Homo sapiens: one gene and its partners. The protein of the gene in region 3 purifies or fractionates together with the protein of the main gene of each other region. This does not show direct contact. Each region holds a gene or a part of one and is shown on either strand. Other genes may lie near its edges.

Region 1 (3,580 bases), on a different chromosome or scaffold from region 3:
CTACAACTGTGTGCCACAGCACCCGGCCAATTTTTAAAATTGTTTTGTAGAGACCGGGTCTCACTTTGTTGCTCAGACTGATCTCAAATTCCTGGCTTCAAGCAATTCTCCTGCCTCAGCCTCCCAAAGTGCTTGGATTACAAGTATGAGCCACTGCACCTGGTCCCAATTTAAAGCTTTTTAACAAGAGTTTTTCAGAGGGGAAGGGATAGCAAAGAGTCTACCTAACCTGTCTAAGAATCAAAAGCTTTATTGCCTGAAGCAATTTATAGAAAAAGTGTTTCCAAGTCTGGAAAGAAAAAAATAATGAACCTTCAGTCATTCTTTCAGCCACTGTTGTAGTAGCAAATTGTGTCCAATAAAACAAAATCCCTGCCTTCAAAAAGAGGGTCACCTAATAAATTATATGAAATATTCAGAGTTCAGCAAGGCCTCAAAAAAGTATGAAACCAATTGTACAAAAGAGGTGGAAAGTTAACAAAAAAAAGACATAACAACTGACTCTCAGAAGACAATCAGAAGTGTACCAGGTAAAGGCAGGAGATGGTGAAGGGATTAATATTCCAGGTAAGTAAAGAATGTACAAACGCAAAGAAATATCAAGCAGCATGGTCTGAATAGCAAATCAAAAAATAACAACAGGTTCAACTTCTGATAGTGATAGAGTAACTTATATCTGGCTAACATTTCTGCATATAACAACAATAAATCTTACATAAAATACCAAAAAAAGGTGATTTTATTTATTTGTTTGTTTATTGATTGACTGATTGAGACAGAGTCCTGCTCTGTCGCCCAGGCTGGAGTGCAGTGGCACGATCTCGGCTCACTGCAACCCCTGCCTCCCAGTTTCAAGTGATTCTCCTACCTCAGCCTCCCAAGTAGCTGGGATTACAGGCATGTGCCACCACATCCAGCCAATTTTTTTTTGTATTTTCAGTAGAGACAGGATTTCGCCATGTTGGCCAGGCTGGTCTCCAACTCCTGACCTCAAGTGATCCGCCTGCCTCGGCCTCCCAAAGTGCTGGGATTACAGGCGTGAGCCACCACGCCTGGCCTCAAAAAATGACTATTTTGAATGCATTTGAAAAGCTGGCACAACTAGAGGGAAGTCAATCCTTAAAAAAAGAGAAATTTGCCAGGTGCGTTGGCTCAAGCCTGTAATCCCAGCACTTTGGGAGGCCAAGGTGGGTGGATCACGAGGTCAGGAGCTCGAGACCAGCCTGACCAACATGGTGAAACCCCATTTCTAACAATACAAAAATTAGCTAGGCACAGTGGTGCATGCCTGTAGTCCCAGCTGCTCGGGAGGCTGAGGCAGGAGAATCGCTTGAACCTGGGAAGCAGAGGTTGCAGTGAGCCAAGATCGCACCACTGCATTCCAGCCTGGGTGACAGAGTGAGACTCCATCTCAAAAAAAAAAAAAAAAAACCCAGAAATTTAAGGGGTTATATTCAACAGCATAAGGCTTTCCAGCTGAGGGCACTCCCCAGTTCACACAGTGTGAGCTAGAACTCAAACAGAAGGCTGTAGCTTGAAAAGTCTGGTACTGACTGAACAAAGTGGCTCATACTTGTAATCCTAGCACTTTGAGAGGCCAAGGCAAGAGGATTATTTGAGCCCAGAAGTTCGAGACCAGCCTGGGCAACAAAGTCAGACCTGGTCTCTACAAAAAATTTAAAAATTAGCCTAGCGGGGTGGCACACGCCTGCAGTCCCAGCCACACAGGAGTCTGAAGCAGGCAAATCACTTGAGCCCAGGAGGTAAGGCTACAGTGAGCTGTGTTCACACCACTGCACTCCAGCCTGGGCAACAGAATGAGACCCTGTCTCAAAAAAAAAGTTTGGTACTGCCAGAGCAGCTAAAAAATGAGAGGAAGATCCAAAAAAAGGACGACGTCACAGTAGGAAACATACCAAAATCTACTGTATAAACTTAGGTACCCATATCCCTGGCTATCCCCTAAACTGTGAAGATGCAAGGGAGACTCCAAGGAGCCTGGAGAAAACAGATGAAAGGCCAAAGAACTGAGCAGAGATTTCGGGACAAATCTCTGGTATCCACAAGAGGGGAGAAAGAGTTTGCATTTTGAGGCTACCTAAGTTAAATAACTGCCTGTATGAAAATCAAACTTTTTATGTAGGAAGAGAACAGAATTCAGAGCCTCAAGAGTGAAGCTGAAATGTGCAGATTACATTTACAAAATAATTAGATATAGTTAAAAAAAAAAACAAAAAGTGACTCCCAGTTAGGAGAAAAGGCAATCATTAGAAACTGAGCCTGATATAAGCAAGCACAAGTCCAAATTACCAAACAAGGACTACACTAGCAAACAAGCAGCTACTCTCAGTATGTTGAAGGACCTAAAGAAAAATATAATCATAATGAATGAACAGATGGAAAAATCTTACAAAAAAATTATACGAATTTGAAAATGAAAAGCACAATATTCAAAATGAAAAATTCACTGTTGAATTTGAAGCTGCAGTGCCACATACATGCCACTGCACATCAGCCTGGTGGTAGAACAAGAACCTGTTTTTAAAAATTCACAATTTATCAACAGATTGCTAATAGCAAAAGAAAGGGTCAGTGAACATTAAATCAACTTAAAATAATCCAAATGAACACAAGGGAAGCCTGGGCAACATGGTGAAACCCTAACTCTAAAAAAAATACAAAATTAGCTAGGCTGATGGTACACGCCTGTATAGTCCCAGCTACTTGAGAGGCTGAAGTGGGAGGATTGCTTGAGCCCAGGAGACCAAGGCTGCAGTGAGCTGTGATCATGCCACCACACTCCAGCTTGGGTGACAGAGAGAGATCAATTTGTTTACTCTCTGTTCAAGGCCAGTGGAGAAAGAAAAATGAAAATGAAAATTTTTGTTCATTGTTTTGCTAAGCTTCTACCAATGATGAGACACTAAAAACTTTAGATAAAATCTTACCTTTTTTTGTCAAATTTTTCCATACATTCTAGAGGCTGAATGAACTGAAGAACTTCATCCCATTGACCATCAAGTATTAGCTGCCTAAATAAAAAATTTAAAAAAACCAGCATGTCACCAAATTCAGGTTATACTAATTAAAAGCAGAACAGATGACAAAACAGCATTCAAACTTCATAAAGCACACAATGAGATTAACATTTTATTTGATTCCTCAAATAAATTTTTCATAATTTTTTTTTTTTTTGAGACAGAGTGTCGCTCTGTTGCCCAGGCTGGAGTGCAATGGCACAATCTCGGCTCACTGCACCCTCTGACTCCTGTGTTCAAGCGATTCTCCTGCCTCAGACACCCGAGAAGCTGGGACTATAGGCTCGCACCACTAAGCCCCACTAATTCTTTTCTATTTTTAGTAGATACAGGGTTTCACCATGTTGGCCAGGCTGGTCTCAAGCTCCTGACCTCAGGTGATCCACCCACCTCAGCCTCTCAAAGTGCTGGGATTACAAGCGTGAGTCACCTCACCTGGCCTAAATTTTTCATAACTTATTTGTAACAACATACACTGTATGAGAAGAATTTGTGAATCTGCAACCACTCATACTAACTATATATATGTGGGTTTTGACCTA
Region 2 (3,580 bases), on a different chromosome or scaffold from region 3:
CAGCAGACAGTTAAAATAAGGCTCACCCATAGGAATGCTGCATGCAGATGTGTATGCGAGTAGGAGAAAGGTCAAGAAGGACTTACACACAGCTTTGGGTTCTGTACGTAGCGAATCTGTCATGTACTAGTTCCAGGTACCTGTTTACCAGATGAAAAGATCCCATTGTTGTCTTAATCTAAATTGCTGAGTTCTTATTGCTACTTTAAAATTGTTCACTGCCAATCTGTAGAGAAGTAGTGGAAGTGAATGATGTGTACTGGATTTCCTTTTATTTCTCCTGATATTCAGGAGCAGGCAGGAAGAGGGAAAAGGAGAGCTTGAGCTTTCCATAGACTGGCAACTGAGGTCATTACTGATTAAGACTTGTGCATATTAAATAAAACATTGTCACATTTCCTTTTCAGGAGCCAACAGTTGGAAGTCAGATTCAGAGAGTAGTGAGCATGGCTGCCTTGGCCATGGTGTGTGAGGCCATAGACCAGAAGCCTGAGCTGCAGCTGGACTCTCTCCATGCTGGGCCCCTGGAAAGCTTCCTTTCCTCTCTTCAGCTCAATCAGACGCTGCAGAAGCCCCACGCAGAGGAGCAGAGCAGTTATGCTCACCCCTTGGAGTGCAGCAGGTACAGGGAAGGTTAAGGCTTAAAAATCCATTTCTGTTGTTGTCACCGTGAGTTCATGATTGCCCAACATTGCTTATAAAGTTATAGAATTTTGGGGCTGAAGCTCCATTCAGGATGAAAGTGTGGTATAACATTATTCATCTCTGTTACTGGAGACTTGCTGACTTTTCTGCATCTAGTTTTCACTGAATCATTTCAGATGAGCAAAAGTACCTACTTTCAGAGAAGTTAGAAAATTAAGGTTTATGTGGTTTCCTTAGTTTTTGGTAGATAGGCTGTTTGATAATGACCATTTATATCTGTACACTGCCCCCCCCCCCCCACCTTTAGAAAGGATAGTGTGCTACGTGCAAAAGACGTGGAGGCAAATTGGGGAAGTATGGCCTAGTAACTTTATTTTTTATTTCAGTGTTTTGGAAGAATCGTCATCTTCCCAAGGATGGGGAAAAATAGTTGCACAATATATTCATGATCAATGGGTGTGCCTCTCTTTCCTGTTGAAAAAATATCACACCCTTATACCAACCACAGGGAGTGAAATTCTGGAACCGTTTCTACCTGCCGTTCAGATGCCAATAAGGACTTTGCAGTCTGCACTAGAAGCCCTCACAGTTCTTTCTTCTGATCAAGTTTTACCAGTGTTCCATTGCTTGAAAGTGTTGGTTCCCAAGGTAAGATAGAGTGAAACATGAATTGAACAGTAACTATAGGAGTGGCGATCAAGTTTTTGAAATAAGTATGTATTTTTTTTTTTCCTACCAGCTTCTGACTTCCTCTGAATCACTCTGCATAGAGTCTTTTGACATGGCGTGGAAAATTATATCTTCTTTAAGCAACACTCAGCTGATATTCTGGGCTAATTTAAAAGCTTTTGTTCAGTTTGTTTTTGATAACAAAGTTCTTACCATTGCTGCCAAAATCAAGGGCCAGGCATATTTCAAAATAAAAGAGGTAACTAACTTTCTTTTCTTTTTGCTTTTCTTTTCATGTGTGTGAGCTTCAGCACATGAGGAACATGAGAGTTGTATTCACAATTAGATTTTTGGCTCTTTATTCCTTCAGTCAAAAATATTTTTGAACCTTCTTAAATATCAAGAGTAAGAATGAGAAAATCTGACAGATGTAGAAGAGAAGGTACAAAACGGTAGCCTGGAGCCACATCTGCCTCAGAAACGGTTTGTTTGGTTCATACAGTGTTTAAAATTTTGATTACCTGGCAACTTTTAATTGTTGGGAAATCTGGCCAGGCGGGGTGGCTCATGCCTGTGATCCCACCACTTTGAGAGGCTGAGGCGGGCGGATCACGTGAGGTCAGGAGCTCGAGACAAGCCTGGCCAACGTGGCAAAACCCCGTCTTTACTAAAAATACAAAAATTAGCCAGGTGTGGTGGCGCACGCCTGTAATCCCAGCTACTCAGGAGGCTGAGGCAGGAGAATTGCTTGAACCCAGGAGGCGGTGGTTGCAGTGAGCTGACATCACGCCACTGCACTCCAGCCTGGGCAACAGAGCAAGACTCCATCTCAAAAAAAAAAAAAGTTGGGAAATCTGTATGAAAAACTGGATTTCTTGGAAATGAGGTAATCTAGCAACACTGGTCATTCTTCCATGACAATGTAATTGATCGCTCGGTTGAGTAGGAGTTGGCATGCTCTTTCCACAATCAGTCTCATTTCACCCGGATACTTGAAGGCAAATGTCAGGCGCCATTTGTCATTGCACTTTGGCTGAGGTTTTTTTTTGTGTGTGTAGAGAAATATTTTTCTGACTGTAACCCTTATCAAAAGGTCTTGCTGGTTTCTGGAGGTATTTTCATTTGCAGCTACTGAGATAGGAACATACCAAGGTGGAGTTCCAGTGTACCTCCTGATCCCCAGGGGAACAGGGAGAGTCAGATTCCGTTATTTCTCTGCAGCCCTGTGCTGCCTTTCTTGGTCCTTTTCTGCCCCACAGTACATAGTTAGAGACGCTGGTCTTTGCTGCCTCAGCCAAAGGAAGGCCACTGGCAAAATGCAAACAAAGGAAGCTGAATGTGTGTGGGGTGAGGTGTTTTTCCCCTTTGATTCTACTGCTTTGGCAGTTGTTTCTCTTGAAGAGTCCTGGATGAATATCACTATCAGTAAAATTTTATTTATTTTTATTATCAAGAGATGAAATAGCATTCTCTGATTATTGATCATCTCGCAAAGTTATTCTAACAGTAATGAATTTAACAGTTTTTAGACTGTTCATGATTATGTTGAAACTAAGTAACAGTTTTTAGCAGCACTGATTTTTTAAAAACTAAATCAAGGATAAAATGACGGTTGTATTTTATTCCAGATTATGTACAAGATAATTGAAATGTCTGCTATAAAGACTGGAGTCTTCAATACACTGATAAGTTACTGCTGTCAGTCTTGGATAGTGTCTGCTTCAAATGTGTCCCAAGGATCTTTATCAAGTGCTAAAAATTATAGCGAACTTATCCTTGAGGCTTGTATATTTGGAACTGTGTTTAGGCGTGATCAAAGGTAAAAGATGCTATTATTTCAACTGGTCATAACTTGTATTAAGTGCCTACTTGGGTATAGAATTATGTCTTTGTTTTGAGGCTTTCAATTAAAAGAATATAAATTATTAGTTAACTTTAACCTTGGGGATTTAATTTTTTTTCTATTTAAAACCTGTTGTTCTTTATCAAATGTTTTTTATGGAAAGACTTGTTCAGGATGTACAGACCTTCATAGAAAACCTTGGACATGACTGTGCGGCAAATATTGTTATGGAAAAGTAAGTATGGTAGATTTTCTCTGTCTTCACATAAATGAGATACTAAAAATTTAACATCATATGACAAACATTCTGTATTTGCTAAATTTAATAAGTGACATCTAATATATTAATAAGATGGGATGAGCCTTTAAAAGTATGTTAGAAATTATAGTCCCTTGCTAATACATTGTCTTTACATCTTTCAG
Region 3 (4,062 bases):
CATTGCACTCCAGCCTGGACGACAGAGCGAGACTCCGTCTCAAAACATAAAAAAAAATCTTTCATGTGGTGCCTACTGTAGGCCTGGCACACAGTAGGCACCACATAAATGATTTCTGTCCCTACTCTAGGCCTGGAGGCCAGCAGGGGTGGGGAACTAACATTAGTTCACAAAATAGACCTAGATCCCTGCCTTTGTGGAATTGATAATGGGGCGGGAGATGACAGACAATAATAAAAAATATAACAACAAAAATTGAAGAGTAGGTTAGAAGGTAATAGCTGGGTACTGTGACTCACACCTGTATCCAGGCACAGTGAGAGGTCAGAGCAAGAGGACTGCTTGAGCCCGGGAGTTCAGGACCAGCCTGGGCAATATAGTGGGACCCCGTCTCCACACACACACACACACACACACACACACACACAAATTAGACAAGTGTGGTGGGCTCAACCTCTTGGGCTCAAACGGTCCTCTCACCTCAGTCTTCTGAGCATCTGGGACTATAGGTGTGCACCACCATGCATGGCTAATTCTTTCTATTTTTTTTTTTAGAGACAGGGGTCTGGCTATGTTGCTCAGGCTGGTCTCAAACTCCTGGGCTCAAGCAACCCTTCTGCCTCAGCCTCCCAAAGTGCTGGGATTACAGGTGTTAGCCACCATGCCTGGCCAAGGGTAGGTTTTAACCACTGCTTCACAAAAGACATTGAGGCTCAGGGAGGTGGTCATTTGCTTGAGATTTGAACCCAGGGCGACTCTGATTCTAGAACTTGGAGAATTAACCACTGCATTCTACTGTATGTCTGATACAAGAACCGCGTCTTCTCACCCTCAGTCAGTTGTCAAGGCCACGGTTTTCTCCTTCTTCCCCTCTGGGGGACCCATTTTTGTTCCTCTGCCTAACTCCAGCCCTGCACCCCAGCCACTGGCCATCTCCGTTTCTGCCACACTTTTTCTCCCTTCTCTCCCCCTCCCCCGCCCCTCCCCCCTCCCCTCCGCTCCTTTCACTTCCCTACCTTCTCTCTCTTTCTTTCTTTCCTTTTCTTTTTGTGACAGAGTCTCACTCTGTCCCCCAGGCTGGAGTACAGTGGCACGATCTCAGCTCACTGCAACCTCCACCTCCTGGATTCAACTGACTCTCCTGCCTCAGCCTCCCAAGTAGCTGGGATAACAGGTACCTGCCACCATGCCCGTCTAAGTTTTGTATTTTTGGTAGAGACGGGGTTTCACCACATTGGTCAGGCTGGTCTCGAACTCCTGACCTCAAGTGATCTGTCTGCCTTGGCCTCCCAAAGTGCTGGGATGACAGGTGTGAGCCACTGTGCCCGGCCTGCCACGCACTTTCTTACTGGTTTTCCCCTGCTCTGCAGTTGTCCTAGGTCCTGCCTATTCTCAATCTCTTCCTGTCTTCACACCTTCTGAGAGTTAGCTCTCTCCTCTGACCTTCAGCTTCAGACTCCAAGCCTCCCCTGACCCTCCGCCTCTGCTCAGTCACCTGGGACTTTCTTGCCTTTGCTTAGATCACAAGTGTCTCCCATGCTCTCCTCTCTGTCTCCCTTGGAGACCAGCATTCCAAGTTCTCAGGCTCACCTCTTGCAGGAAGACCTCCCAGATCACTTCAACCCACAAAACCTGCTTACCTCTACCTATTTAGAAAACATGGATCAGACGGGTGCAGTGGCTCAGGCCTATAATCCCAGCACTTTGGGAGGCCGAGGTGGGCAGATCTCCTGAGGTCGGAGTTCAAGACCAGCCTGACCAACATGGAGAAACCCCATCTCTACTAAAAATACAAAATTAGTCAGGCGTGGTGGCGCATGCCTGTAATCCCAGCTACTCCAGAGGCTGAGGCAGGAGAATAGCTTGAACCCAGGAGGCAGAAGTCGTGGTGAGCCAAGATTGCGCCATTGCACTCCAGCCTGGGCAACAAGAGCGAAACTCTGTCTCAAAAAAAAAAAAAAAAAAAAGAAAAAAATACAAAAATTAGCTGGGCATGGTAGTATGCACCTGTCATCCCAGCTACTCAGAAGGCTGAGGCGGGAGAACCGCTTGAACCTGGGTGGCAGAGGTTGCAGTGATCCGAGACCACGCTACCGCACTCCAGCCTGGGTGACAGAGCGAAACCCCATCACAAAAATAGAAAGAAAACATGGATGAAGGGTGTGTGTGTGTGTGTGTGTGTGTGTGTGTATGTGTGTGTGTGTGTTTTAATGAAACCACAGTTTTTCAGTGTGTAAGTTTGTTGCTTTTTTTTTTTTCTCAGCTCACTGCAACCTCTTCCTCCTGGATTCAAGCGATTCTCCCACCTCAGCCTCCAGAGTAGCTGGGACTGTAGGTGTCCGCCACCACGCCCGGCCAATTTTTGTATTTTTAGTAGAGACGGGGTTTCGCCATGTTGGCCAGCCTGGTCTCGAACTCCTAGCCTCAGGTGATCCACCCTCCTCGGCCTCCCAAAATGCTGGGATTACAGGCATGAGCCACCGCGCCTGGCTGAGTTTGCTGCTTTTTGAATCATTTGCCCCCTGCAATAGTTGAGAGTTGAATATGACCTCCAAAATGGGTCATCAGAGAATCCAACAACTGAGACTACTAGCCAGGTAATCTTGGAATAAGTCATTAAGCTCCCATGAGCCTCAGTTTTCACCTCTGTACATCAGGGACGAGGACAGTGCACCTACCTCAAGGGATGGCGTGTGAATCAATGAGTTTTAGAAAATTCACTTAGCTACAGACCAGATCTTTGGGTCTCCCTCTGTCCCTGGTCTCTCAGAGGATCCTCATGTTCCTTCCCAGGCTGCATCCAAGGGTGGTCCAGCCCTGCGCATTGTGACCCCAAGAGCTTCCTTTGTGTAATGATACTGTCACAATGACCACTCAGCACCTCTAGGGGCAGCCGGGAGGAAAATTAGCAGGCAGGCTTGGTGCGAATACTGCCTCCTTAGAGCTCCAGGAACCCAGGCAAGTAATTGACTTTTTGGAGCCTCTGGGGTTTTGTTCGGTTGGTTTTGTTTTTGAGGTAAGCTCTCGCTATGTTGCCCAGGCTGGACTTGAAGTCCTGGGCTCAAGCGATCCTCTCGCCTCAGCCTCCCAAGTGGGTGGGTCCACAGGTGTGTGCCACCATGCCTGGCTAGGACTTAGGTTTTGTCATCTGCAAAAGGGGACTAATGATGGTAGCCAGTTCAGAAAGCAGTGTCAGTATTGAGGATTTGATTAAATAGGCTGCTGGTGTCCATTATTATTATCATCCTCTAAAGTTTTTCTGTCCCTCTACCTTCTACACACCCCACACAGAATGGACCCACTTCCCTGAATCACTGCACCTCTTGATATTATTCTAGGGCTCACAGATCTCCCTTTAAAGGGGCCGGTCACCCCTCCTTCCCCAGTCAAAGACCACCAGGAATGTACCTGTGATTGAACACATTCAAGCTTATTATTCATCAGAGAGAGAGAGAGAAAGAAAGAGAGAGGGAGAGAGAGCTCATACATGTCATAGGGCACTATGGCGGTCTCAGTAGGGAGGTGTTAGAAAGAACTTTTTTTCGCTATTTATTTATTTATTTATTTATTTGAGATGGAGTTTCGCTCTTGTTGCCCAGGCTGGGGTGCAGTGGCACGATCTCAGCTCATCGCAACCTCCGGCTTCAAGTGATTCTCCTGCCTCAGGCTCCCGAGTAGCTGGGATTATAGGCATGTGCCACCACACCCAGCTAATTTTGTATTTTTAGTAGAGATGGGGTTTTTCCATGTTGGTCAGGCTGGTTTCGAATTGCCGACCTCGGGTGATCCGCTCGCTTCAGTCTCCCGAAGTGCTGGGATTATAGGCGTGAGCCACCACGCCCGGCCAGAAAGCACTTATTATGGGATTTGCAATTCTGCTCGGTGTTTTGGGGGCACAGCTTAAGGAAGTAGGGGATTTGGGTGGGATGAATTTATTGGTTGGAAATTTTACTTTCTTTTTTGAGATGAGCAGATAAAAACAAATAAAAACAACACACAGGTGAGGCATGGTGGCTCACATTTGTAATCTCAGCCTCCCAAAGTAGCGTCCAGAAAAGGGCT
Region 4 (4,008 bases), on a different chromosome or scaffold from region 3:
TCCCATTTCATTTTGCCCTAAGAGGAAACCAGACTGCCAAAAGTTGCTCCAGCTCCCTTTAGTAAGCAGCACATTTTTTAAAAGGTGGGGGAGGGTTGAGTAAAGTAAATACTTAGGCTATTTGGCATCCATCTTAATAAAAAATAAAAGTAATTCACAAAAGTTAACCTGTGCTCAATGCTCTAAGCATTTAGAATGTGGAAATTCCTAAGGATTCTATTTTTTTTCATAGAATATATGTTGTATTTTGCTTTTTTTGTAGTTTGAAATTATCTTTGGTAATGCCTGGATAAGGTTATAACAATAGTCTCCCCAGTAGTATTGTGAATGCACCTGCTTGCCAATTCAAATAATTTTGAACAAATATTTAAACAGAAGGAGTCAGAGAAAAATGCACTATTTGAACAGCTAAGGGAGGGTCCACTTCATTAACAAAATGCAACAAGTATTCACAGTATAAATCAACTCATAGTAAATTTGCAAAAGCATCTTCAAGGATAATATTCCAAGGAGAAAATAGTCTCTTAATTTTACCAAACATTATTTTTACACTTTAATCATTAAAAATAGGCTTAAATGCAATATGAATGGTAAAACTAGAGACTGGATGATATGAACTCATACCACAACATATACAAAAAATAGTTTTAACAATGACTATTGAAGCTGACAGTCGCTTGACTAGAATTGAGAAGAGGCCACGGGTGACTGCCTCAGAACAGACTCAATTAGAGCAGCTGATTAGGAAGTATGGGATTCATACAGGAGTGGAGCAGCAGGCTCATAAAAACACCGCGGGGCATTCAAAACTTACCTGAGTAATGGTGGTTTTAACTGTGCCAATTTGTTTGGGATTGGGAAATGCTATTATGACCTATTTCTCTTCTCCAACATGAGGAGTCTCCCTACCATTCTGTGACTGAATACCTAGGGTTAGGTTACCTGAAGGATCTGTTATTAATCTCCAGCTGTAAGGAAATATTCCATAAGGATTCCCAGAGAATAAATGATTCCAAAATAGTTGCTCAGTTTGTGTGTGTTTTAAAAAGTTGGGTAAGACCACTTAAAATTTTTTTCTAAGAGGATAGATCTTAAGCATACAATAGTGTTAACTATAGGTGTGTACTTATCCCCATGATACTTATACACCTATGAAACCACCAATAGTTAGGGTGGAGTGGTATGCACAGCTTTTTACATGTCAATTATACCTCAAAAAATAAAGGTTATCTAAATGGGGGTAGGAGAATGTAGGGAGACTGAATTTACTCTGAACTACAGTTATAGTTGAAGTCAACTCAAAACCTCTCCAAATTTCTAAAAATGCCTCACACACTGAAGTTAATATTTCAGAAAACTAATAAATGTCTGTGCATGTAGGTATGCCTTGAGCAGACTACAATCTCTCTGGATCTCTAGGTCTTGTCACAAACTGAGGGAACTGTTACCGATTTCTACAGAACCTTCCAGGTTCAGCATTCTATTAAAAAGATTTCCTAGAGTTTGTATTGTAAACATTTAACCACTTAGGACAATTTGAGTCATTACTCGTGTCTGGTACAGAACATCAGGCCCCTGGGGTCTTGTTTTGAAACTCAAGTTGGCCAGCCTTTCACCTGAAACAAACTTCTTACCTTTTGGGGGAGAATAAGCATTTTGTTCCCCAAAAAAGCATTTGGAAAGCATTTGTTATGAAGTGATCATGCACCAATCCTTTATCTTTCATCAGTAATAGTATATTTCATTAATCAGGCCTGCCCAGACCAGAAATTACTTACCCACAAACACTTTACAAAGCTGCATGCCTTCTCGGTGTTTGGATTTGATGTCCTGGTTGTATGACAATATAGGAAACGTATTAATTTAACTTTTTTATTCACTGAGGAAAATTTCTACCCCTCTTAAGTGAAGACTTCACTCTAGCTAAGAGAAGTACTCGGGCTCCACCTGTTTCGCCTAGCTACAACACTCATTCAGACCCTCGGCAAACCCAGCTCTAGCAATATCACGCCAGGCTAGGTGGACAGGAATGCACCAGTGCTGTTGGAAATTAAAGTTGATGGGAGTTGCATTCTAATCCGGCCAGAGCTGCGCCTGCCGGGTGCAACCGCGGCGCGGCCGGCGCTGTCGGTCTCTGTCTCACGGATGGTGAGCTGACAGCTCCTGCCAGCCCAGGCGGGGAGGAGGAGAAGAGGTGTCCGCTGCAGCCGCATACCCGGCGGGTGAAAGCACCGTCTTGTCCCCAAAGATTCCTCTGCCCTCAGAGACTAACAAAAATACGGTGTCCTGCGTTTCGCAGAAGGACGGGAGGCGTCCCAGAGCTCTCCCGGGAGAAAAACCCAGGGAGAAGTGGTGGTAGGAGGCGCCCGGTCCCGCAACTCACCTTCTGCTGCCTCCGGGCCATGTCGGTGGGCTGCTTGGCGTTGAAGGGGTACGCGATGCACCTCACGACGAAGACGTAGAGCTGCAGGCGGATCCTCCGCTCCTGCTCATCGTCCAGCTGCCGCTGGGGCTCGTCTCGCCCCTCGCTGAGCACAGAGGGGCTCGGGCTCACAGATCTGGCCGCGCCGCCGCCGCCCGCGCGCCCCGGCGCGTCCCGCCGCCCTTCCCGAGTCGGGGCTGGAGGAGCTCGCTGCGAGCTGCCGGCTGCCACCAGCACATCGCGGCTTTCCTCTTCCAGCCCCTCGTCCGACTCCTCTTCGCTGGAAGACGGGTCCAGCATGGTGCTCGGGGATCCCCGCCGCTCGGCCCGCGGTCCCCAAGCGCCTCACCCCCGGCGGCTGCGCCCGCGGGTCTGAGGGAGCCGCGGGGCTGGCTGCAGCGGCCGCAGAACGAAAGGAAAACTGGCCAGGGCTTTCCGGACACGTCGAGTTAGATTCAGGAGTGTTTCCTACCACCAGGGCGAAAGGGGCGGGCAGGAGCCGGGAGGAGGATTGGGAGGGGGGAGAGGGGGAGCCGCCGGGACTGAATAGGCGGAGTTAGCGTTGGGGGTGAGCTTGGGCGCCTCAGGAATTGCTCCGCCAGCCCCGGGCGCGCCGACCCAGCGGTTCCCCAGAGCCCGCCGGCAGAGGCGGAGCCGCCCGAGCGCCCGGACGCAGGTGGGGAACCTGTGGCGCCTACAACAAGCAACACGTGGAATTGAATGTTGAAGAGCCGCGCGGGGCCGCGGAGTGCGCGTGCGCGCGCCGCCGCTGCTGCCCGGGCCCGCCTGGAGCCCTAGCACACAGTTTGCAAAGGCGGGGAGCGGCCGAGCGCGATGGCCCGTGTAAGCGTCCACCGGGGCTGCTCCGACTACCCTCACCCTACCACCTGTGATCTTTTCTCCAGCAGGTGGAGGTGGAATGGGGAGCGGGGAGGGACTGTTCCCTAGCAAGAGGTTAGGGGGAGCGGCCGAGACATCTCCCCAACCCGAATCGGCTGCCTAGGATTGAACCCCAGCGCGGAAAAGCGGGACTGGAGCCCTTCACCACGAAGTATCTTTGCGACAAGACTTTGAAAAGTCTCACTCTGCTCTGCTGCCGTTTTGATACTCATGCTGAAGCCCAAATTATAAAAGTCGGAGTAATGAAAAAAAAAAGAAAACCAACGAGGCTTACTTTTTAAACTGTTCTAGTCCTGCAGACTCAAGGCAAGAGAGATTTTATATGTGCAAAATGATACTGATTCAGCTCAAACATATCTCGATTATTTTCTGGGTTGGGATGCAGTTGACTCAAAACAGGTTGTGTAGTGTGGACATTTATTCAACAAAGATTTGAGCGCCCTCCCGGTGTCCAGCACTGTTAGCCTTTTGCGGAGCCCGCGGTGACTAAGGCACATGACACTCAGTCGCTGGTGGTTCTGGCCTCAAGTCGGCGTCTTGTAGCTGCGCTGAAGCCTGCCTTATCTGCGCAGATTTCTCAGTCCTAGTGCTGGAACCACCTAGGAGTTTCTTATAGTAATTCTGTATCTTATGTCCTAAGTCCTGACAGAGGGGGAAATAGGCAAAACAATGCATTCAACACCAGG

Evidence for each region.
Region 1: the proteins of SAXO5 (region 3) and WDR47 purify together in Homo sapiens (affinity purification with mass spectrometry; 2 studies listed by BioGRID and IntAct, with this or other methods). This does not show direct contact.
Region 2: the proteins of SAXO5 (region 3) and TARBP1 purify together in Homo sapiens (affinity purification with mass spectrometry; one large-scale study listed by BioGRID and IntAct). This does not show direct contact.
Region 4: the proteins of SAXO5 (region 3) and CADPS2 purify together in Homo sapiens (affinity purification with mass spectrometry; 2 studies listed by BioGRID and IntAct, with this or other methods). This does not show direct contact.

Annotation. Positions count from the first base shown.
Region 1 is NC_000001.11:109,014,570-109,018,149, forward strand, and holds part of WDR47 (WD repeat-containing protein 47), read right to left. Parts: intron 3,033-3,580; coding exon 2,949-3,032; intron 1-2,948.
Region 2 is NC_000001.11:234,427,129-234,430,708, reverse strand, and holds part of TARBP1 (tRNA (guanosine(18)-2'-O)-methyltransferase TARBP1), read left to right. Parts: intron 1-407; coding exon 408-622; intron 623-1,031; coding exon 1,032-1,293; intron 1,294-1,384; coding exon 1,385-1,573; intron 1,574-2,942; coding exon 2,943-3,133; intron 3,134-3,320; coding exon 3,321-3,392; intron 3,393-3,580.
Region 3 is NC_000019.10:7,496,299-7,500,360, reverse strand, and holds the start of SAXO5 (stabilizer of axonemal microtubules 5), read right to left. Parts: upstream 2,814-4,062; 5' UTR 2,679-2,813; intron 1-2,678.
Region 4 is NC_000007.14:122,883,616-122,887,623, forward strand, and holds the start of CADPS2 (calcium-dependent secretion activator 2), read right to left. Parts: upstream 2,846-4,008; 5' UTR 2,723-2,845; coding exon 2,384-2,722; intron 1,831-2,383; exon of another isoform or gene 1,779-1,830; intron 1-1,778. UniProt on the Homo sapiens protein: Calcium-binding protein involved in exocytosis of vesicles filled with neurotransmitters and neuropeptides. Probably acts upstream of fusion in the biogenesis or maintenance of mature secretory vesicles.